Linked DNA regions of Homo sapiens: all the other regions are linked to region 3. Evidence: fine-mapped expression QTL. A gene starts in region 3. Each other region holds a variant in brackets. All regions are shown on one strand. Distances are from middle to middle. Region 1 overlaps LMAN2L (lectin, mannose binding 2 like). Region 2 has its middle 25 kb from the start of DUSP2. Region 3 holds the start of LMAN2L (lectin, mannose binding 2 like).

Region 1 (8,186 bases), 22 kb after region 3:
AATACAAAAAAATTAGCCGGGCGTGGTGGCGGCCACCTATGGTCCCAGCTACTCGGGAGGCTGAGGCAGGAGAATGGCGTGAACCTGGCAGGCGGAGCTTGCAGTGAGCCAAGATCGCGCCACTGGATTCCAGCCTGGGCAACAGAGTGAGACTCCGTCTCAAAAAAAAAAGAAAGAAAGTACACAATAAATGTAATGTGCTTGAATCATCCCGAAACCACCCCCCCTCCAACTCCCCGGTTCATGGAAAAATTGTCTTCCAGGAAACCAGTCCCTGGTGCCAAAAAGGTTGAGGACTACTGGATTAGAGGATAAACAAAATGTGATATATTGTTATAATGGAAATATCAGCAATGAAAATAAGTATCACTGGGTGTGGTGGCTCGTGCCTATAATCCCAACACTTTGGGAGGCCAAGGTGGAAGGATTGCTTGAGTCTAGGAGTTTTAGATCAGCTTGGGCAACATAGGGAGACCCCATCTTTACAAAAAACAAAAAAAATTAGCTGGTCCCAGCTACTTTGCAGGCTGAGGCAGGAGGATTGCTTGAGTCCAGGAGGTCAAGGCTGTAGTGAGCTATGATTGCCACTGCACTGTAGCCTGGGCGATGGAGCAAGACTGTCTCAAAAAAAAAACAAAGTAGGAGTAATTGCCAGGCACAGTGGCTTACACTTGTAATTCTAGCACTTTAGGAGACCAAGGTGAGTGGATCACTTGAGCCCAGGACCTCGAGGTTGCAATGAGCCTTGATCACACCACTGCACTCCAGCCTGGGTGACATAGCAAGACCCTGTCTCAAAAAAAAAAAAAAAAAAAAAAAAGACTGAAAGAAATTAAGTATCGATATGTGCTCCAACATGGATGACCCATGAAAACACTATGCTAAGTGGAAGAAGCCAGTCACAAAAGACCCACACATTGTATGATCCCATGCATATGAAATGTCCAGAATAGGCAAATCTGTAGAGACAGAAAGTAGATTAGTGGTTGTCTAGGGCTGGGGTAATGTGGGGTGGAGATGAGGAGAGTGACTACTAGTGGGCATGAGATTTTTTTTTGGGGTGATGAAAATGTTTTAAAATTGGTTGTGGTAATCATAATCTTAACTCTGAATATACTAAATGCCATTGAATTATATACTTTAAGTGAATTGTGTGGACTGTGAATTATATCTCAGTGTTGTAGTTATTTATTTTATTTATTTTTTTTGAGACTGAGTCTCACCCTGTCGCCCAGGTTGGAGTGCAGTGGCGTGATCTTGGCTCACTGCAACGTCCATCTCCCAGGTTCAAGTGATTCTCCTGCCTCAGCATTCCGAGTAGCTGGGATTACAGGTGCCTGCCACCACGCCTGGCTAATTTTTGTATTTTTAGTAGAGACGAGGTTTCACCATGTTGCCCAGGCTGGTCTCGAACTCCTGACCTTGTGATTTGCCCGCCTCAGCCTCCCAAAGCACTGGGATTACAGGCGTGAGTCACCGCGCCTGGCTGTATTGTAGTTATTTTTTAATGTTGATTAAAAGATCACCAGTGGGCAGGCACAGTAGCTCGTGCCTATAATCCCAGCACTTTGGGAAGCCAAGGCAGGAAGATAGCTTGAGTCCAGGAGTTTGAAACCAGCCTAGGCAACATAGCAAGTCCTCATCTCTACAAAAAATCAAAAAAAAAAAAAAGGTAAAGATAACCTGATTATCTTGCACTATCAAGTCATCAGCTGATGATCATCACTTTCTCACACAAACCTACCCAGATGTTGGTGAAAAGTTGCAGGGAAGTCAGTAGCAATCTTGGAGCTACAATGTGCTTCCGTTGAAATCAGAGCGTAATGAATGAGAAGAGGCCTTCCTGGAATGAGAGCACAGAGTGTAACCGTTGCGGTCTTGGCCTTCATTCTTTTCTGTGAGATGTTTGGGCCTCACCCCTGGGGAGGCAGAAATAGCTAGAGAGTGGGGAGAAGAGCTTGGGAGTTGTTTTTGAGGTATTCCCCATACTTTGAGATACTCCTCATACTTTTTTTTGATGTGATGATTGTTTTTTCCTCCTTTGAACTGGAAGAAAATTTAACAATACCATGCCATCCAGTTAAAAAAACATTTCCTCAAGTCTTTTTTTTTTCTTTTGAGACTGAGTCTTGCATTCTATCGCCCAGGATGGAGTGCAGTGGCACAGTGATAGCTCACTGCAGCCTCGAACTCCTAGGCTTAAGCAGTCTTCCTGCCTCAGCCTTCTGAATAACTGGGACTACAGGTGGCCATCATGCCAGGTTAATTTTTACTTTTTTTGGCCAGGTGCAGTGGCCAATGCCTATAATCCCAGCACTTGAGGTCAGGAGTTCGAGACCAGCCTGGCCAACATGGTGAAACCCTGTCTCTAATAAGAATACAACAATTAGCTGGGATATGGCGCATGCCTATAATCCCAGCTTCTTGGGAGGCTGAGGCAGAAGAATTGTTTGAACCTGGGAGGCGGAGGTTGCAGTGAGCCGAGATTACGCCACTGCACTCCAGCATGGGCAACAGAGTGAGACTCTGTGTCAAAAAAAGAAAAAAAATTTTTTTTTTTTTGTAGAGATACGGTCTTGCTATGTTTTCAAGGCTGGTCTTGAACTCTTGGACTCAAGTGACCTCCTCCCTTGGCCTCCCGAAGTGCTAGGATTACAGGCATGAGCCACCACACTCAGTCCCCTTAAGTCTTTGTCTTGATGAAGACACTGATCCCAAAGTGGTCTCTTTACTGTTGGCAGAGAGAATTTTAACATGTTTCTTTTCTGAGACAGTGAAAGAGGGAGAAAGGAAGAAAGCAAGGGCCAGTGCTCCAGAGGATGCTTATTCCTGGGTTAGTTCTTTTCTTTGGGCTTTGACCCTTTCGAGACTCTGATTAAAGTGTTGGACCCAAGAAAGAGGCATGTACACAGAAGAGTTGACATGATTTTAGGAGATCTGAAGATCTCCTGTTCTATAGAATTGATGGCTCTTCTCATTAACAAGAAGTATTGACATACTATCAGAATGATGGTCAGCAGTGAAATAAAGACATACATAATGGGCTCTATTCTGAAACTTGGTACTTGTAATCTGGGTGGGTAGGTTATAAAGGTCAGTGCTTGGGGCACACCTCAAATTTAGTCTCCTGATTTTGGAGTACTCTTTATTGAAGTCCTCAAATTACTTGATTTGAGGACTAAGATAAATGAGATTGAGATCATTCCGTGAGTTTCTTAAGAGAGCGTGATGATATTCAATTATATGAAGGTTTCCAGACCTGGAAGTGCCACTTTTCTGTGTCCTCCAGTTGAGAAGCTGTGAGTCCTGGGGACAGAGTCCCTAGCATAGCTTTGTGGGAGTCTGGGGGCTTACAGAGCAAGGGCCTTCTCAGGCTGCCTAGTAATGTGTAACGAATCTCACTGATCTTCTTTTCACTTTAAATAGGATGGGTATTGTCTCCTCTTTGTCTGGATTTCTGCATAAAGGGCTAGATGAAGATTATTGTAGGACCAGCAGCTTATACAGCTTTGAAAAAGTGACAGGTCTACGTGTGTAAGTGACAGTGTGTTCCGCTAGTGATCCCAGGGAGGATGAAATGGAGGTGTGGTGGGAGATGCTTCACATTTAGTAGCATCTAGTAGAAGGCATTTGTTTTGTTAATTATTTTTATATACATTACAGGAGAATTAGAAAATGCTGAAAAAACAAAAGCGTACAAACATCTTTAAAAACAAAGACATTGTATCATGTTGTAAATACTGTTTTTAAAACCTTTTTAAATGTTTAAAAAATTGCAGATATATAGAAAAATTGAGAAAAGCAGAAAAATTGTATGGTAAATACTAGATTCAGATTAATCTTTATTTGATAATAATTTTGTGCTTATGATTAAGTTATAAGAATACAACCGGCCACGCACAGTGGCTCACGCCTGTAATCCCAGCACTTTGGGAAGCCAAGGCGGGTGGATCACCTGAGGTCAGGAGTTTGAGACTAGCCTGGCCAACATGGTGAAACCCTGTCTGTACTAAAAATACAAAAATTAGCCGGGCTTGGTGGCAGGTGCCTGTAATCCCAGCTAGTTGGGAGGCTGAGGCAGGAGAATCGCTTGAACCCGGGAGGTGGAGGTTGCAGTGAGCCGAGATCGCGCCATTGCACTCCAGCCTGGAGGACAAGAGTGAGACTTCATCTCAAAAGAAAAAAAAGTTGGTCCTTTAGGGGGAAAAAATATAACAAGAGAATTTTGGAATGTTCTTCACCCAGATTTCCGAAAATGTTAATGTTTTACTACATTTGCTTTGTCCCTATTTTTTTTTTTTTTTTTAGAGACAGAGTTTTGCTCTTGTTGCCCAGACTGGCGTATAGTGGCACGATCTTGGCCCACTGTGGCCTCTGCCTCCTGGGTTCAAGCGATTCTCCTGCCTCAGCCTCCTGAGTAGCTGGGATTACAGGCATATGACACCATGCCCGTCTAATTTTGTATTTTTAATAGGGACGGGGTTTCTCCGTGTTGGTCAGGCTGGTCTCGAACTCCCGACCTCAGGTGATCCACCTGCCTCGGCCTCACAAAGTGCTGGGGTTACAGGTGTGAGCTACTGCGCCTGGCCGTCCTTTTTTTTTTTTTTTTTTTTCCGACACAGGGTTTGGTTTTGTCACCCAGGGTGGAGTGCAGTGGCACAATCACAGCTTAGTGTAGCCTCAACTTCTCAGGCTCAATAGAGCCTCCCATCTCAGCCTCCCAAGTAGCTGGGACTACAGGTGCATGCCACCAAGCCCAGCTATCTTTTTGTAGAGATGGGGTTTTGCCATGTTGCCCAGGTTGGTCTCAAACTCCTAGGGTCAAGCAATCCTCCCACCTTCATTTCCCAAAGTGCTGGGATTATAGGTGTGAGCC[A/G]CCACACCTGGCCATCCTTTTCTTTAACCTCTTTCTTTGTGTGTGTGTGTCTGTGTGTATGTGTCTTGCGTGTATGTTTGTGCTTGTGTGTCTTTTTTTCTGAACTAAGAGTAAATTGCTCTCATGATGTCTCCTTAATCCTAAATACTTGTGTGTGTGTGTGTGTTTAAAAAAAAAAGTTATTTTATGTAGCCACAGCACAGTGATCAAAATCAGGAAGTTAACATTTGTAACAATACCATTATCTAATCTGCAGGCCTTATTCATATTTCACCTATTGTCCCAATATGTCCTTTATAATGAAAGAAAGTCCCAGATCCTGTGTTGTATTCAGTTGTTACTCTCCTTTAATCTGGAACTATTCTCAGCGTTCTCTTTGTGCTTCAGAGTACATACTGTTTAGACCTGATTTTAAAAAAATAATACATATGAAACATTTTTCCATATTGAGAGATATTGAAAGCAGTGTATCCCAGTGATTGAGTCAGGGCTCTGGAGCCAGAATACTTGGTTTCAAATCCTGATTTCACTACTTAATGCCTGTGTTATCCTGGACAAGTTTTTTACCTGTGAAATGAGGAGTACTGATACTACCTCATAGGATTGTGAGAATTAAATGCAGAAGGGCTCATTACTGAGTTCAGTGCCTGGCACAGACTAAGTGCTCAATAAACACCAGCTATTATTCACACCATTCAGTGGATTCCTAAGGGACATTTTGCAAACATCTTAGTTCTGTTCTCTCTTCCTCTCCCCTCCTTCACTTCTTCACATCTGGGTTCCCAAAAGCAAATGGTCAGCTTACTAGACAATGGTATGGTTTGAGATGGAAACACTGCTCTAAAAGAGTGGCTCCTAGATGCCAGTGTATGAACTCCAGTTGTGTGGTAACAGAGTTTTCACTGGTGCAAGAATCATAATAATGAAGTTCTTTTTCTTAAGTGCTAAATGTATTCAGTTGTTTCATTATGAAATTACATTGTTCTCTCTCATCTTTTGGTGTTAAAGTGTCCCTTTGTAAAATGATGTTTATTATAGATGATTGTTCTGTCATTATTGTATTTTAATATTTTTAGTAGGCAATAAAAAGAAGCCAAATCTAATACTCTCCAAAATATTTTTGGAAATATTAATGGTTGATCACAGCCAGTGGTCTGGGAATTCGTGCTTTAGAAGATGTATGTTTGGCTTTGTGTTTATATATATATGAGTACCTGTGAACGATATTTGTATCTAGAAATACACTAGTCACTGATTGAATGTTTATTGACTCCCTCCTGAACACCAAGACATTGTACTAAATGCTTCGCATATCTCATTTCATCTTCATAATGAACCCTGTGAGCTTTGTATTGTTCTGTTTACAGTGAGGAAATAGAATCTCAAAGAGGTGATGTAATCCACCGAAGGGTTACACAGCTATAAGTGACATAACTGCAGTTAGAACTCAGGTCTCCCTAATTACAGAGGCCATTTGGAATTTTAGCCTAGAATCCATAAATCCACAAGCTAATGGGTGTCTTTTCCATCGAAATATGCTGAAGATACAGTTATCCCGTAGAGGTCTTCAAAAAACACTTTTTTAAAAGTAGTCTTGTAGTACAAAAAGTTGAAAACATTTCTCCACCCTTTAAACAACAGTCCTTTGGATGATAAAACAGGTGAGAGTTTCTCCTTTCTGGTGACTCTTAAATTAGGAATAAAACTACCACCTTGCCTGAACCAGTGTGATTCTTCAATCTTTGGTTCTAACTTACAGAGTGCTTTCTAGGGGAAAAACAAAATTGCTCCTGTGTGAAATTAGTGGTTATCCAAGAAATACTTCCAGGAACTCTTGACTAGGCGTAGAAAATAAGATGGCATTTAGTGACTTACACTAATGTGAGGTTAAAAGTTGAAGGCCAACTCGTGTTGCCGAAGTAGACAGATTCTCTGTAGTTGCAAAGCTGTGAGGCTCCCTGTCTGGTGCAGCGTTTCTTCAATTTGGCTGCACATCACAGCCTTCTGTGGTGCTTTTTAAAAATACATAATCCTGGCTGGGTGCGGTGGCTCACGCCTGTAATCCCAGCACTTTGGGAGGCCAAGACGGGCAGATCACGAGATCAGGAGTTCGAGACCAGCCTGACCAACATGGTGAAACCCCATCTCTACTAAAAATACAAAAATTAGCTGGGCATGGTGGCGAGCGCCTGTAATCCCACCTACTCATAAGGCTGAGGCAGGAGAATTGCTTGAACCCAGGAGGTGGAGGTTGCAGTGAGCCAAGATTTCGCCACTGCACTCCAGCCTGGGTGACAGAGTGAGACTCCATCTCAAAAAAACAAACAAAAAACAATCCTGCACCCCACTCTAGCCATACGAATGAGACTCTTTGACTGAGGGACCCATGTATACGTGCAGTTAACAAGCTCCTTCAGGTGCTCCCAAGGTCCAGCATGCCTCTGGCTGTTACCTGGAACTGGGTCCACACCAGCCTTGGGAAGAGTAAGGCACCCTTAGGCTAAGGATTGCTGTCTCTTTATTATTTGTTTATTTTCTAAGCAAGCTAACATAGGAGATTGCTATCTCTTTAAAGTTGCAACTTAAACTTCTAATCAGGGTTACTAGAGGTGATGAGTGAAGGAAGCCTTGGGCTCATCAGAGCTCCACAGGGCATTTTTAATCCCTTTTTCTTAATTGTCACTGAAATTATGAGCATACTCTCAGATGCCAGTTTCTGTAAACTGCTTGATAACATGCTCACCATTTCCTTGTTCTAAATGGTAGTTGTTGAAGATTAACTTCATGCCAGTTTAATCATCCACGGATTGATGTCATGCCTTTCTGTGTCCTGTATGAATTCTGCCAGTGGTGTTAAGAGGAGGACGGCAGGGGATCTGCACTGCAGCCTCGGACTCCTGGCTGTGGCCCATGGAGCCCAGTGCCGTGGGTGCTGCCTTGCCTCATGGCAGCCTCTTCTCACAAGCTGTGATTCTGACTGATCTGTTTCCAGTTCCTTGAATGTGCCACCCTCATGCTTCTTGTGCCCTCAGATCTTTTGGTGGACTCCCTCTAATTACTTGAGTCTCAGCTCAGATATTGCCTCCTCAGGGAGAGGTTCCCTTGCCCATCCCTTGTATTACCTATTTTATTTTCCTTATAGCATTTTTCACTATCTGAAATAATTTTATTTGCTTCTTTGTTGTTTGTTTCTTCCACTCTGATCTTAATTCCATTCCTGTCTGTCTTGTTTCTCTTTGGACCCTCAGCATCTGGAACAGTACCTGGCTTGTAGTAGGTGTTCACCGTATTAAAGGAGTGAAGGGTTTGA
Region 2 (8,186 bases), 570 kb after region 3:
TGTCTGATGTTCCAATGCTCCTGTTATGATTCCTCCACTTCTTATGAAACTCATTATTGCTTCCTGTATTTCTGTGCCTAGGAAAGAAGGTGTGATGGGGTGATAATCAGCAAGGACTTATTGAGGGCCCACTGTGTGCTTTAGGACTTTCAAAGGAATTATAAAGCAGCTGGGGAGACAACCCTGGCCTAGACATAATTGCACAGCCCAGCATCGAGAACCAGCAAAGCCTCAGTCCTGTGTAGCAAGGACAGAGTAGGACTGGGTGAGCTGTGACTCCGTTCCTGAGACCAACTGTCTCGAACATAGTTACACCAGCGGCCTGCTGGTTCATCACCCAGAATGTTCTGGATACTCCTTTGGATCTTGCCTTCATATTCTTTTGTTTTCTACAGTATTAATTAAGAGGCTAAAAGATAATGCACTTATGCATTTCTTTTTTTTTTTGAGACGGAGTCTCACTCTATCACCCAGGCTGGAGTGCAGTGGCTCACTGCAATCTTTACCTACCAGGTTCAAGCAATTCTCGTGCCTCAGCCCTCCCAGTAGCTGGGACTGCAGGTGCGCACCACCACGCCCGGCTAATTTTTGTATTTTTAGTAGAGACATTTTACCATGTTGGCCAGGCTGGTCTTGAACTCCTGACCTCAGGTGATCCACCCACCTTGGCCTCCCAAAGTGCTCGGGATTACAGGCATGAGCCATTGCGCCTGGCCTAACTTAAGCATTTCTTTTACACATAAAAATATAAAGAAAAATTACATAATCTGTACAACCCAGAGCATCAGTGTATTTTTCTCCACTTGTATTTGTACGTAACATTTTTTCTGGCTGAGCACGTTGGCTCACGCCTGTAATCTCAGCACTCTTTAGTATTCTCTACTAAAAATACAAAAATAAACTGGGCGTGGTGGCACACGTCTGTAATCCCAGCTACTTGGGAGGCTGAGGCACGAGAATCGCTTGAACCTGGGAGGAAGAGATTGCAGTGAGCTGAGGTCGCACCATTGCACTCCAGCCTGGGCAACACAGCAAGACTCCATCTCAAAAAACCCAAAAAACTAAAAAACCATTTTTAGTTTTTATCCAAATATTTGTGCGCATAGTTGGAAAAGTCATGGCCGGGCACTATGGCTTATGCCACCTGTAACCCCAGCTACTCCGGAGGCTTGAATCAGGGAGGCGGAGGTTGCAGTGAGCCAAGATGGCACCATTGAACTCCCTCTGCCTGGGCAACAGAGTGAGACTCAGTCTAAAAAAAAAAAAAAAGTCAAATCGTTCTTAAAGTTTGTTATGAAAACTCCTCCCACCATCTCCCCTCCCCAGGGACAGCCAGTTTCACCTCTCCCAGCATATTATATTGATATTTATCTCCAGGTCTCTAAATAATGTGCTTATCTCGCCCCTCCTTGCTTTTTCATTTTAGGCATTATATGAAGACTTCGCTCTTTCTTCCCATCCCCACCCCCTCGCAATGACTTAGCTCTTCCTTCCCCTCCTTGCCCCCCTTATCCCCTCTTTGTCCCAGAGTACTTAATTATACTGAATTAGTTACAGTATTATTTAGCATTTACAGTATTACGAGCATGGAAATATCACAGGCAAGACACTACACTGTTTTCTAGCACGACTTTTTGTTTTCCTAGAGCCAGTACTTGGTTTTTCATTTATTTAGTTTGTTGTGGTTGTGTATGTGTGTGTTTTTTTGTTTTTGAGATGGAGTCTCTGTCTCCCAGGATTGTGGTTGTGTGTGTGTTTTTTTGTTTTTGAGACCAAGTCTCACTCTCCCAGGGTTTTGTGTGTGTGTTTGTTTCTGAGATGGAGTCTCACTCTGTCTCCCAGGGTTCTTTCTCTCTCTCTCTCTCTCTCTCTCTCTCTGTGTGTGTGTGTTTTTGAGATGGAGTCTCACTCTGTCTCCCAGGGTTGTGGTTGTGTGTGTGTGTGTATGTTTTTGTTTTTGAGATGGGGTCTCACTCTGTCTTCCAGGGTTTTGTGAGTGTGTGTGTGTGTGTGTGTGTGTGTGTGTGTTTGAGATGGAGTCTCACTCTGTCTCCCAGGCTGGAGTGCATGGCTCGATCTCGGCTCACTGCAACCTCTGCTTCCCGCATTCAAGCGATTCTCCTGCCTCACCCTCCTGAGTATCTGGGACTACAGGCACCTACCACCATGCCTGGCCCTGTTGTGTCCTTACCACTAACCACCCTCGCTGGCGCGGTGGCTCACGCCCGTAATCCCAGCAGTTGGGAGGCCTAGATAGGTGGAGCACTGGAGACCAGGAGTTGGATATCAGCCTAGGTAACATCGTGAGACCCTATCTCCACCAACAATACAAAAACTAGCTGGGTGTGGTGGTGCGCACGCCTGTAGTCCCAGCTACTCCGGAGGCTGAGGCGAGAGAATCGCTTGAACCTGGGAGGTTGCAGTGAGCCGAGACAGCGCCACTGCATTCCAGCCTGGGTGACGGAGCAAGGCTCCGTCTCAAAAACAAAACAAAACAAAACAAAACAAAACAAAACAAAATAAACAAAACCACTCACCCTCTCTGGCAATTGGGATCTCTCTCTCTGCTGCTGCAGCAGGTGTGGTAAGATTTCAATTCCCGCGGGGTCTGGGCCTCCCAGGTTCAAGCGATTCTCCTGTCTCAGCCTCCCGAGTTGCTGGGATTACAGGCGCGCCTGGCTAATTTTTGTGCTTTTTTTTTTTTTTTTTTTTTTTTTTTGAGACGGAGTCTTGCTCTGTTGCCCAGGCTTGAGTGCAGTCGCGTGATCTCGGCTCACAGCAAGCTCCGCCTCCCAGGTTCATGCCATTCCCCTGCCTCAGCCTCCCGAGTAGCTGGGACTACAGGAGCCTGCCACCACACCTGGCTAATTTTTTTGTATTTTTAGTAGAGACGGGGTTTCACCGTGTTAGCCAGGATGGTCTCGATCTCCTGACCTCGTGATCCGCCCGCCTCGGCCTCCAAAAGTGCTAGGATTACAGGCGTGAGCCACTGCACCCGGCCATTTTTGTGTTTTTAGTAGAGACGGGGTTTCACTATGTTGGCCAGGCTGGTCTTGAACTCCTGACCTCAAGTGATCCACCCACCTCGGCCTCCCAAAGTGCTGGGATTACAGGTGTGAGCCACCACCTCCAGCCTGATATTGAGTTTTAAATTTCTGCTTTCTTATTTTTAATAACTGGAGACCTATTTTCTGAGTGTTTGCTCTTTGTGGCAACTGTTCTTATTTTATGGGTACAGTATCTTCCCTCTCTGAGGATGGGAGTGATTTTTGTTAATTTTTTTTCTTCCTGCACGATGTTTCCTCCAAGTTACTTTTTCCTGTTAGTGGCCTCTCCTTTGTGATTGAGGCTTTCCTTGGCTGTTGGTTGTTGGTTCTTATTAAGAAACTCTGACTGGGGGTTCTCAGCATGTGAGCG[GC/C]CGGCCATGACCTCATTATAGGGTAGGCTGGCTGGCTGTTACACAAACCTTCAGCTGGTTCTTAGTCTATCCCTTCTCTTCACCCAACATGGTACCTCACTGAGCCTGAGCCTTTTGGGCATTCCACTGGGTAAACTGGATTGGCTCTTAACTGTCCCCACTACTGGCTAGGAATTCAGTTTTTTCTTTGTCTTAAGCCATTTGCCATTTTGACCATATACTTTCCACCTTCCAAAAATGTTTCCTGTTTCTTTCCTTTCTCCTTGATTGTGTGGGGTTTGCCTTTTGCTTCACCTTCTTTGCTGTCAAGCATGGGTTCAGGGGGTAACCACTGTCATCTTTACCTAGGTCCTCACTTTTTTTATTAAGTAGTTTTTATTCATTGACTTTGTTGAGGTATAATCAAAGTACAGTAAGCTGCATGTACTTAAAATGCACAACCTAATAAATTTTACTTAAATTCATTAAATAAATGCACAACCTGAGAAATTTTCACATGTGATATACCTGTGATGTCATCATCACGATGAAGATAATGAACATTTCATCACCCACAAAAGTTTCCTTATACCCCTTGCAAGTCTTCCCCTGCCCTGTCTGAGCATACCCACCATAGAATAGTCTGCATTTTATAGAGTTTTATATAAATGGAATCTTAGAGTATGTGCTGTAGTGTGGTTTATGGCTTCTTGAATTCAGCATAATGATTCTATGATCGTTCATGTTGTGTTTATCAGTAGTTCACCCCTCTTCATGGCTGAGTATTATTCCACTGAATGGATGTACCACAATTTGTTCACTCATGTACCTGTTGAGGAACATTTGAGTTGTTACCAGTTTGGGAGGATTATAGATAGAGCTGCTGTAAACATTTGTGTACAAGTCTTTGTGTAAATATATATTTTAGGTTTTTTTTTTAAGGTAAATACTGAGGAATGAAATGCCTGAGTCATGGTAAAAGTATGTTCAAATATTTATTTATTTATTTTTTATTTTTTGAGACGAAGTCTCGCTCTGTTGCCTAGGCTGTAGTACAGTGGCGTGATCTCGGCTCACTGCAACCTCCGCCTCCTGGGTTCAAGTGATTCTCCTGCCTCAACCTCCCAAGTAGCTGGGATTACAGGCGTGCACCAACACACCCCGCTAATTTGTGATTTTTTTTTTAGTAGAGATGGGGTTTCACCATCTTGGCCAGGCTGGTCTTGAACTCCTGACCTCAGGTGATCTACCCGCCTCGGCCTCCCAAAGTGCTGGGATTACAGGCACAAGCCACTGTGCCCGGCCTCAAATATTTTAAAGTAACTGCCAAACTGTTTTCCAAAGTGGTTGCCTCATTTTATATTCCTATGAGCAGTGTATAAGAGTTTCAGTTGCCCCATCTCCTTGCCAAAATGTTTTGTGATCTGTCTTCTCATTATGGCTTTAATTTGCATCTCCCCAGTGATTAATGATGTTTAGCATCTTTTTATGTGGTTATTGGTGGTCATAAAACTTCTTCCTGTGAAGTGTCATTTGAAATCTTTTGCTCATTTTGTATTGGGTTGTTTGTCTTGACACGAGTATTTCTATTTTTCTCCTTTTTTAAAAATTAAGATATATACAATTCAGTGGTTTTTAAGCACATTTACGGTTATAAAACCATCACCATGACCTAATTCCAAAACATTTTCATTACCCCTCAGAAAAATTCCAGATTCATTAGCAACCACTCCCTTTACCCCTCTCTCCCCAGCCCCTGGCAGCCACTAATCTACTGTCTGTCTCTATGAATTTGCCTATTTGGGACATTTCATATGAAAGAGTCATATAATATGTGGTCTCTTGTGACTGGATTCTTTCATTTTTAAGATTTTCAGGGTTCATCCATATTATAGCATGTATCTACTGATACATGCTTCATTCCCTTTTATGGCTGAATAATTTTTTTTTTTTTTTGAGACAGAGTCTCGCTGTGTCATCCAGGCTGGAGTACAGCGGCACAGTCTTGGCTCACTGCAACCTCTGCCTCCTGGGTTCAAGTGATTCTTATGCCTCAGCCTCCCGAGTAGCTGGGATTACAGGCATGCACCACCACGCCTGGCTAATTTTTGTATTTTTAGTAGCTGTGAGGTTTCACCATGTTCCCCAGGCTGGTCTTGAACTCCTGGCCTCAAGTTATCTGCCTGCTTCAGCCTCCCAAATATTGGTATTATAGGCGTGAGCCACTGGGCTGAATAATATTCTGCTGTGTTGATATACCACATTTTGTCCATTCATTCACTGCTAGGCATTTGGGTTGTTTTTCACTTTTTGGCTATTATGAATAATACCATTGATGAACACTCATGTGCACACTTCTGTATAGACATATGTTTATAATTCTCTTGGGTATAAGTAGGAGTGGGATTGCTGGGTCATATGGTTATTACTGGTGGAAGGTATCAGAGTTACTGGCAAATCTGTATGGGTCTGCAGCAACCTCAATTCTTGCCTCCTCAGAAGAAATAATTCGACTGAGGGCAGAAAAAGAGATCAAGGCAAATTTTCAGAGCAGGAATGGAAGTTTATTTTAGAAGCCTTTAAAACAGGAAAGAAAGGAAAGCAAGCTTGGAAGAGGCCCAAGCCGGGAACTTGAAGAACAAGTGTGATGTTTAACCTTGATCCTAGGACTTTATAGGCTGGCCCACTTATGGCGTCTTGTGCCCCTTTCCCATGATTCTTCTCTCAGGTGGGCTTCCCGCATGCGCAGTGCCCTCCTTACCCTTGGGAAGTGAGCAGGGGCAGTGTGTTTAGGAAGTTGTGTGCATGCCCATCTGAGGCTTTCTTCCCTTTTCTGGTGGGGTGCCCCCAGGAGGTCCATCATTTTGTCTCTTAATGCATATGCCTGGGAAGTTACTTCTCCCTGGCACCTGCATTTAATTAATACGTTAGTGCAACAGGTGTGGACCATCAGGAAATGGGCTCTCCCTGGCACCAGCTGCCAATTTATCACTGTTAGAGAGGCAATGCAATAACTGCCGAACCACAACCCAACATTCCTAGTGGGTTGAGGGAGAGTCCTCTCTGCCCGGCTCACGTCTGTCTAACTACCTGTAACATGGTTAATGGATGTTTAACTTTTTGAGGAATCACCAAACTATTTTCCAAAGCAGCTGCACCATTTTACGTTCACACCAGCAGTTTGTGAGGGTTTCACCTTCTTCACATCCTTAACAACATTTGTTGTTCTTTATTCTAGCCATCCCCATGTGTGTGAAATGTTATCTCATTGTGGTTTTGAATTGCATTTCTCTAATGACTAATGATGTTGAGCATCTTTTCATGTGCTTATTGGCCATTTGCATATCTTCTTTGAGGGAATGGTTATTCAAAACCGTCACTCAGTTAAAAATCAGATTGTCATTTTATTGTTGAGTTGTGTATTTATATATTTTAGATGTGTAGATGTGTATCATTTGTCTGATATATGTGTTGGTAATATTTTCTTCCCTGTCTGTGGCTTGCCTTTTTTTGTTGTTGTTGTTTTGTTTTGTTTTGTTTTTGAGATGGAGTCTCGATCCGTTGCCCAGGCTGGAGTGCAGTGGCATGATCTCGGCTCACCACAACCTCTGCCTCCCAGGTTCAAGAGATTGTCCTGCCTCAGCCTCCTGAGTAGCTGGGACTACAGGCGTGCACCACCATGACTGGCTAATTTTTGTATTTTTAGTAGAGATGGGGTTTCACTGTGTTGGCCAGTCTGGTCTTCTGACCTCATGATCTGCCGCCTTGGCCTCCCAAAGTGTTGGGATTATAGGTGTGAGTCACTGCATCCAGCAGGCCTTTTGTTTTTTTAAGGTGTCTTTCAAAGAGTAAAAGGTTTTAATTTTGACAAAGTTCAGCTTATCAATTGTTTATATTTTGTGTGTGTGATTTTTTTTCTTCTTTTTTTTTTTTTGAGATGGAGTCTCGCTCTGTTGCCAGGCTGGAGTGCAGTAGTGCAATCTCAGCTCACTGCAACCTCCACCTCCTGGGTTCAAATGATTCTCGTGCCTCAGCTTCCTGAGTAGCTGGGATTACAGGCACATGCCACTACACCCAGCTAATTTTTATATTTTTAGTAGAGACAGGGTTTCACCATGTTGGCCAGGATGGTCTCGATCTCCTGACTTCATGATCTGCCCACCTCGGCCTCCCAAAGTGCTGGGATTACAGGTGTAAGCCACCGTACCCTGCCTGTGCTTTTTTGTGTTCTAAGAAAACTTTGTCCAGTTCAAGATATAAATATTTTCTCCTATGTTTTTCTTCTATACATTGCATAATTTTAGATTTTACATTTAGGTCTTTGATCTGTTCCAGTTAGTTAATTTTTATATGTGGTGTGAGTTAAGGGTCTTAGATGACATTTAGTATGTCTCCAACATTATTTCTTATTTCGTACGAGGCAGAATGGGAGTCTCACTCCCCTATTATTTTCTCCCTCGCCTTATTCCATATACATTATAGGAAATGTGTTTTTGTTTTTTTGTTTTTTAAGAGGAAAGAGACAGAAAGATTTGCTAATATGGGGGTAGCCAGTATACTCCGTTTTTACTCAATAGTGTCATGTTGCTTTCCCTACATTATTTTTTTTTTATTTTTTATTTTTTAGATAGAGTCTTGTTCCATCACCCAGGCTGGAGTTCAGTGGCACAATCTCGTCTCACTGCAACCTCCACCTCCCAGGCTCAAACAATTCTCCTGCCTCAGCCTCCTAAATAATGGGATTAAAGGCATGTGCCACCACTCTCAGCTAATTTTTGTATTCTTAGTA
Region 3 (8,186 bases):
CTGACCTCAAATGATTCCGCCCTCCACCCCCACCTCGGCCTCCCAAAGTGCTGGGATTGCAGGTGTGAGCCACCGAGCCCCGCCTGTCCTTCCTTTCCTTTTTTTTTTCTTTTGAGATGGAGTCTCACTCTGTTGCTCAGGCTCGAGTGCAGTGGCATGATCTTGGCTCACTGCAACCTCTTCCTCCTGGGTTCAAGCGATTCTCCTGCCTCAACCTCCCGAGTGGCTGGGACTACAGGTGTGCACTACCACGCTTGGCTAATTTTTGTATTTCTAGTTGAGATGGGGTTTCACTATATTGGCCAGGCTGGTCTCGAACTCCTGACCTCATGATCCACCCGCCTCAGCCTCCCAAAGTACTGGGATTACAGGTATGAGCCACCGGGCCTGGCTCTTCCTTTTCTTTGATACATTCCTCATTAATAAGCATTCTTCCTATTGCAACAGTCTGAACAAAATGATTTGATTTATAGTCCAGTGCATCTCACCTTTCACACCCTTCTCCTTTATTCCCCTTTTCCTCATCACACAGAATTTTACAATGAGATTTCTGCTTGTGTCAATCTATCAGAAATTCAGCTGACAGGGTGCATGACACTGCGAATGAATTTAATGCCTTTGAACTGAACACACATGGTCCTGACTTAATGATGGTTTGACTTAGGATTTTTAGACTTTAGGATGGGTTTAGTTTTTCTGTAGGTAACCCCATTGTAAGTTGAGGACCATCTGTACTTAAAAATTATACGCTGTATTTTATGTATTTTTTTTCTTTTTTTTTTTTGAGACAGAGTTTCACTCTTGTTGCCTAGGCTGGAGTGCAGTGGCGCGATCTTGGCTCACCGCAACCTCCACTTCCCAGGTTCAAGCGATTCTCCTGCCTCAGCCTCCCAACTAGCTGGGATTACAGGCATGCGCCACCACACCCGGCTAATTTTGTATTTTTAGTAGAGACGGGGTTTCTTCATGTTGGTCAGGCTGGTCTCGAACTCCCGACCTCAGATGAGCCACCCACCTCGGCCTCCCAAAGTGCTGGGATTACAGGTGTGAGCCACCGCGCCCGGCCTTTATGTGCATTTTACTACAATTAAAAATTCATCTTGCAGAGAAATGCAATGGAAATAATTTATTCAAAACAATTAGAACCCCTACTATGTGCTGGGTGATAGGTTGGGGTTGGGGAAATGGGTGGGGCCTGAGTTAGGAAATGAGTAAGACCTGCTTCCTGTGGTCCTGGAGCTCCCAGCCTTGCTGCGGAGACAAACCCATAATCTGTTAATTGAGCTCCATAATTCCAGGTGACACACATTACAGTACACATGCGTAGCGCCTGATTTCAGTCAGGATGCAAAGGGCTTTGAATGCTACACTAAGGACTTTGGATTTTGGTAATTGGGAGTTATGAATGGTTTTAAAGCCAGTGTATGACACGAACAGATTCATTGCAATTCCTAAAGTCTTAGCACCAGACATTTGACATTGTAGGGTGTCAAAGACTGATGGCAGTGACAGGCTGGGCACCATGGCTCACACCTGTAATCTCAGCACTTTGAGAGATGAGGTGGGAGGATCGCTTAAGGCCAGAAGTTCAAAACCAGCCTGGGCAACATAGAGACCCCCATCTTTAGAAAAAATTTTAAAAATTAGCTGAGGCTCACCCAGCAGTTTGAGACTGTAGTGAGCTATGATCACAGTACTGCACCCCAGCCTGATGGATTGAGACCCCATTTCTTCTTTTTTTTGTTTTTTTGAGACGGATCTGCTGCTCAGGCTGGAGTATGGTGGTGGGATCTTCTTGACTCACTGCAACCTCTACCTCCTGGGTTCAAGTGATTCTCCTGCCTCAGCCTTCCAAGTATCTGGGATTACAGGCACCTGCCACCACGCCCATTTAATTTTTGTATATATATGTATATATATATTTTTCGAGACGAAGTCTCACTGTGTTGCCCAGGCTGGAGTGCTGTGGTGCGGTCTCGGCTCACTGCAACCTCCGCCTTCTGGGTTCAAGTGATTCTCCTGCCTCAGCCTCCTGAGTAGCTGGGACTACAGGCGTGTGCCACCACGGCTGGCTAATTTTTTGTATTTTTAGTAGAGATGGGGTTTCACCATGTTGGCCAGGATGGTCTTGAACTCCTGACCTCAGGTGATCCGCCTGCCTCCCAAAGTGCTGGGATTACAGGCCTGAGCCACCGTGCCCAGCCAAGACCCCATCTCTTTAAAAAAAATAGCTGTGACAGCTTTAATTTTAAAAAGTTGATCCCCTGTAAAGTAGGCTCATAATTATGTTTATCTTATTAAATATATTCATGCTCAGGAAAGCAAGAGAGTGTTAACTTTGGTTAAGTCTATTGGGAAGACATAAACACAGATCTGTCAATTGCTCTATATGAGATGTGCATGGAACACTTTGAGAGCTCAGACAGGAGAATCTACCCTGCCTGAGAGGTTTGAGAAGGACCTCCAGAAGGAAGTGGACTGCAGAAAAAAAAAAGAGGGAAGGGAAGCTGGAGCATAAAGATGGAGGAAAAGAGTCATGGGCAATAAGGCCAGGGCCAGATGGCAGGGGGCTTTGTGTGCCAAATTGAGGGGCTTGAATCTCCTCCCCACAGGTGATGGTGAGCCATCAAAGGCCCGGTTAATAAGAATGATGATGATGAAATAGCGCTTATGGCTTGGTGCGGTGGCTTACACCTCTAATCCCAGCACTTTGGGAGGCTGAGGAGAGAGGATCACTGAAGTCTAGAAGTATGAGACAAATCTGGGCAACTTAGTGAGACCTCCCCCACAACCCCATAGCTACAAAAAATAAAAATTAGCAAGGTGAGGTGGCACACACCTGTAGTCCCAGCTACTTGAGAGGCTGAAGTGGGAAGATCCCTTGAGTCCAGGAGGTTGAGGCTGTGGTCATGCCACTGCACTCCAGCCTGGGTGACAGAGAGAGACCCTGTCTCAAAAACAAAAACAAAAACAAAAACAAAAAAAAAAAGAAAAGAAAAAAGAAAGAAATAGTGCTTACTACACGCAAGGCACTGTTCTAAGAGGTTTACCAATATTGACTCATTTAACCCTGACACTTACCATGGTTAGATAGTTTGGATCACTTTAGTGGCTACGTGGAGACCAGTCTGGACACATGTTGTGGTGCCGGATAAAGACGAAGGGATGTGCCTGTAGTCCCAGTAACTCAGGAGGCTAAGGTGGCAGGATCACTTCAGCCAGGGAGGGAGAGGCTGGAGCTGAGATTGTGCCACTGCACTCCAGCCTGGGCAACAGAGCAAGACCTTGTCTCTCTTTTTTTTTTTTTTTTTGAGATGGAGTTTTGCTCTATGTGGCCCAGGCTGGAGTGCAATGGCTTGGTCTCGGCTCACTGCAACCTCTGCCTCCCAGGTTCAAGCGATTCTCCTGCCTCAGCCTCCCAGTAGCTGGGATTACAGGCACGTGCCACCACGCCTGGCTAATTTTTTTTTTTATTTTTAATAGAGACGGGGTTTCTCCACCTTGGTCAGGCTGGTCTCGAACTCCCAACCTCAGGTGATCCGCCTGCCTCGGCCTCCCAAAGTGCTGGGATTACAGGCGTGAGCCACCGCGCCTGGCCAAGACCTCGTCTCAAACCAAAAAGAAAAAAAAGAGGAAGGGAGGAAAGGAGGTGATGGCTTTTAGAATTAATTAATTTGTGTGCTTTCAGTTCTTTTATATCTGTAGGTTGCTTGATGGCCCAGACTATCACGGCAAAGGAGTCATTTGCATTTGAAGAGAATGTGTCTTCCGCAGTTGTTAGGTGGAGTTTCTATAAATATCATCAGGTCAAGTTAGTTGGTAGTGCTGTTCAAGTCTTTTATAAATTGATAGTTTTCCAGCTATTTTACGGATTTGTCTATTTCTCCTTTCACTGCTATATCTTCCAAATTGATTCAGAGAGCTGCAGTCAGGAGCGTACTATTGCAGAGAGGATAGAATGTTTGGGACCAGAAGAAACGTTTTATCTCTTTAAATTTACTCTCGTACGCAGAAAACAAAATACAAATAAACTACGTATCCCAGCAAGCCTAGTGGAACTCAGGGCAAATGCAAATAAGGGGGGGGGCTGGGCATTCGGCTACGCCCCTTTTCTGGGTTGGCAAGGCAACTGATACAGAAGCCAGCCAATCGGTGATATAGTCACCTGCAGGGGCGGGGGCTTGACGAAAGCCAATAGGACGCAGGGCAGATGGCTCTTCGGGCCAATGGGTTGGGCGACGGGGCGGGCTTTTGATGAAGGGTCGTTGGTGGGAAAGATGGCGGCGACTCTGGGACCCCTTGGGTCGTGGCAGCAGTGGCGGCGATGTTTGTCGGCTCGGGATGGGTCCAGGATGTTACTCCTTCTTCTTTTGTTGGGGTCTGGGCAGGGGCCACAGCAAGTCGGGGCGGGTCAAACGTTCGAGTACTTGAAACGGGAGCACTCGCTGTCGAAGCCCTACCAGGGTGAGGCGCCCAGGGTGAGGTGGTCGTGCAGTGGGGCGGGCTTCGGGACTTGATTTCAGGGGTAGAGGCGGGGGCGGCGAAGGGCTTCGTGGCCCGGAGGAAACTGCTGGCGGTGGTGGGGCCCACGGAGACTCCCTCCGCGTTTGGGAGCCACAGGTCTGAAAGGCAGGAGTTAGGTGTGCCTGCCAAGCTCTGGAAGTTTCCAGTAGGTAAAGGCAGGGCTGTCGGGTGCCACTAGTACTAGGCCTGGAGTTAGACAGGAGGAGTTTGGGAAGGGGAGAGAATTGAGAATGGTGAGGAGTGATTGAGGGCTACTAGCAATGAGCCAGTCTCCAGATGGACCTGTGGATGTGCTAGAAATAAAGCAGGAGGAAGAACTGGGGTAGAACTTGAACGAAATGAGAAGATGATAAATTTATGTTGCTGGGTAGAACCACCTTCTCTTCTCCAGCCTAGGGGCCCTGTTGGTGAAAGAGGTTAGGGTTCACAGAACTCTAAGCACAGCTTATCAGCCAGAAAATTAATGCAGTTAGCCACAAAACGATGACAAACCAGTGCAGATGGCTTAACTAACACAAGTCTTTCCCCACTAAGGCGTAGGTAGTGGGACAGAAAACAATTCAAAGTGCAAGAGTATACTCTACTACTAAGGGTAATCATTTATTCACTTACATGCCTGGAGTGCCTCTGTGCTGTCTCTTTGCTAATGCTTATGGGTTTGCAGACACAAAGTTTTCATTCTTAAAGAAGTTTATAGGTGAGGGTACAGGGAGTAGCTTCACACTTTAAGGATTGTTTAAAGAAAGAATGTGACGGCTGGGGCGGTGGCTCACGCCTGTAATCTCCGCACTTTGGGAGGCCGAGGTGGGCGGATCACGAGGTCAGGAGATTGAGACCATCCTAGCTAACACGGTGAAACCCCATCTCTGCTGAAAATACAAAAAAATTAGCCAGGTGTGGTGGCGGGCGCCTGTAGTCCCAGCTACTCAGGAGGCTGAGGCAGGAGAATGGCGTGAACCCGGGAGGCAGAGCTTACAGTGAGCCGAGGTCATGCCACTGCACTTCAGCCTGGGCAACAGAGCGAGACTCCATCTCAAAGAAAAAAAAAAAAGGAAGAATGTGACTAAGCCCCGGAGGCCTGAGGGTCAAACTCTTTTTATTTATATTTATATATTTTTAGAGACAAGGTCTTGTTCCGTTGCCTAGGCTGGAGTGCAGTGGCACAATCATGGCTCATGCAGTTTCAATCTCCTGGGCTCAAGCGATGCTCCCAACTCAGCCTCCTGAGTAGCTAGGACTATGGACAAGGACTACCACACCTGGCTAATTTTTTTTTTGGTAAAGACAGGGTCTTTCTATGTTGCCCAGGCTGGTCTCAAATTGCTGACCTCAAGATGCCCTCCCTCCACATCATCTCAAAGTGTGGGGATTACATGGGTGAGCCACTGCACCTGGCCTGTCAAACTCTTTTTGATATAACTCAGGAAAATTTTTTTCTTTTACGATGCTGAAGTTTACTCACATATAAAACGGGAAGAATGGATGTGAGCTATGGTTACTGTAACATGCATAAAGTGAGAGTTCTGATGTGCTTTGGGGTCCTTACCTGATAAAGGCCTTGTGAAAGCTGTAGAGATGGTAAGATTCATGACTGAGAGAAGATAGGAGATTGAGTGACATTAAAGGGGGAAAAAGATGATGGCTCAGCTTTCAGAGGCTCTGTGGTGGCTGCTTTCTGAATGGATTGGTGTTGAAAAGTATGAACTGATCTACTTCCTTCCTGTAGGTGTGGGCACAGGCAGTTCCTCACTGTGGAATCTGATGGGCAATGCCATGGTGATGACCCAGTATATCCGCCTTACCCCAGATATGCAAAGTAAACAGGGTGCCTTGTGGAACCGGGTGGTAAGAATCTTTCTCCCTCCTGTGTTGGTGACCCAGAAAGGCCTAAAAAGTTCAGCAGTGGCATACTGATTTAATTTTACTGTCTATCCCCCTGGTATTCTATCTTCTGTGGATATCAAGGATCTTTATTTTTGAGATTATTCTGACCTTGATAATAAATAAATCAGGTATTTAGGAAAATGCTCTCTATTTAATTATAGCAAATAATTCATTTTTTTTTCCTGAAATGTCGTTAATTCCTGATTGGCCCAATAGTACTACTTCTTAGGGTTTAATAATAACTTAACTCCTGCTTAACCACTTTGTAAGAAGATTATAAGAAGACCAGAGTGCAGTGGCACAATCATAGCTCACTGCAGCCTCAAACTCCTGGGCTTAAGGGCTCCTCCTGCCTCAGCCTCCTGAGTAGCTGAGACTACAGGCATGTGCCACTGCACCTGGCTAATTTTTAAAACGTTTTTTGTAGAGATGGGGTCTTGCTATGTTGCCCAGGCTGGTCTCAAACTCTTGGTCTCAAACAATCCTCCTGCCTTGGCCTCCCAAAGGTCAGGGATTATAGGTGTGAGCCACCGGTCCTGGTTGAGAGTACTCTTAAATTGATCCCAAACCTTATCCCAGCATCCCCATCTTGTTATTTCAATTTGAAGAGTCTGATATAAAATTTTATTTTCATGTGAAAGCCACTCTGAGCTGTTGGTCATTTTATTTGTCCTTCTCTGGACCTTTTCTAGCTGCATTGTCTTCCTTGAGGTATGGCGACAAGAAGTGAATGCAGTATTCCTGGTGTGGCTGCACTGTGATTTTGTACAAGTGTAAGATGATGCTTTCTTTTCTGTTTCCAGGGCTTTCTAAATCTTTTACGACCAGTTTACTTTTGGGCATGACTCTGGCATCCTTTGATACTTTCTCTGGAATTCTCTTAAACTAAGAACTTACTTTTTTACGTGGCTTTTCTCATTAGTTGTAGATAAGCGAATCTCAGAAAAGAGAACGATTTCTTTTCCCTGTTCAGGAGGGCAAGAGAAATTTCTACATTAGCTATCTGCACAAACTGGCCCCTTAACCTAGATCATAGTGCCGAGCTCATTTTTGGACAGAGTACAGAGCATTGTGTTTTCGTAGCAGAGATAAAGGACAGTTGAAAGACTGGGATTCTCGGTCCAGCTCTGTCACAGTCCTCCTGTGAGCCCTAGGCAGATTATTTAACTTCTTAGTTCTGTTTCTCTATCTGATAAATGAGCTTCAGAATACCTGTTTTACTTGCCCACTGGGGTTGTCGTGAGAATAAAATAGGACAATAGACATGAAAAGACTGTGGCAAGTTAAAATGGTTATAGAAATATGTGTTATGTTATTACACTTCTACAGGTTTGTTGATGGGGCTCTTGTGGGTTACCGGATGATTATGTTCAAGGCTTGATACTCTGCTGCTGTCTTGCTGGCTGTCTGTCTCTACATAACTTGTAGCAGCAGTTCTAGTATAGCCTCTAGTTCTTCCCTTTTTCGACTTCTGATACCTGTATTCGCTGTTATCTGGCTATCACCATGACTATGGGCTTGTTTCTGAGTTATTTGAATAGGATGCATTTGTTTCAGCAGTGGTTCTCAAATTTGGCTATCCATTGGAATCAATGCCTGGGTCTCATCCCCAGAGATTCTGATCTAATTGGAATAGGGTGCAGCTTGGCCATTGGGATTTTTTAAAACTCCGTAGGTGAATCCAGTGTGTGGCAGAATTTCAGAACCACAATTAGACATGGTCCTGAGCAAAACAGTATAGCATTGTGCTGTAGGAGGCCAGGAATCAGTGACAGACA

What was found. PIP is the estimated chance that this variant, and not a neighbour inherited with it, causes the effect.
Region 1: its variant is fine-mapped to the expression of LMAN2L in whole blood (INTERVAL, PIP 0.92).
Region 2: its variant is fine-mapped to the expression of LMAN2L in whole blood (TOPMed, PIP 0.96).

What each region holds. Positions count from the first base shown.
Region 1 is chr2:96,713,961-96,722,146 of GRCh38, reverse strand. All of the region lies in intron 4 of LMAN2L (lectin, mannose binding 2 like), which reads left to right. Among named protein-coding and RNA genes, the nearest start is that of LMAN2L, 22 kb to the left of the region's middle. The variant A/G (reference allele first, on the strand shown) is at 4,877.
Region 2 is chr2:96,166,065-96,174,250 of GRCh38, reverse strand. No RefSeq gene overlaps it. Among named protein-coding and RNA genes, the nearest start is that of DUSP2, 25 kb to the right of the region's middle. The variant GC/C (reference allele first, on the strand shown) is at 3,418.
Region 3 is chr2:96,736,132-96,744,317 of GRCh38, reverse strand. LMAN2L (lectin, mannose binding 2 like) reads left to right here and starts at 4,254. Exons shown (of 8, transcript NM_030805.4): 1 at 4,254-4,464; 2 at 6,251-6,369. The coding sequence starts at 4,278. RefSeq lists enhancers at 4,001-4,938, 4,939-5,878.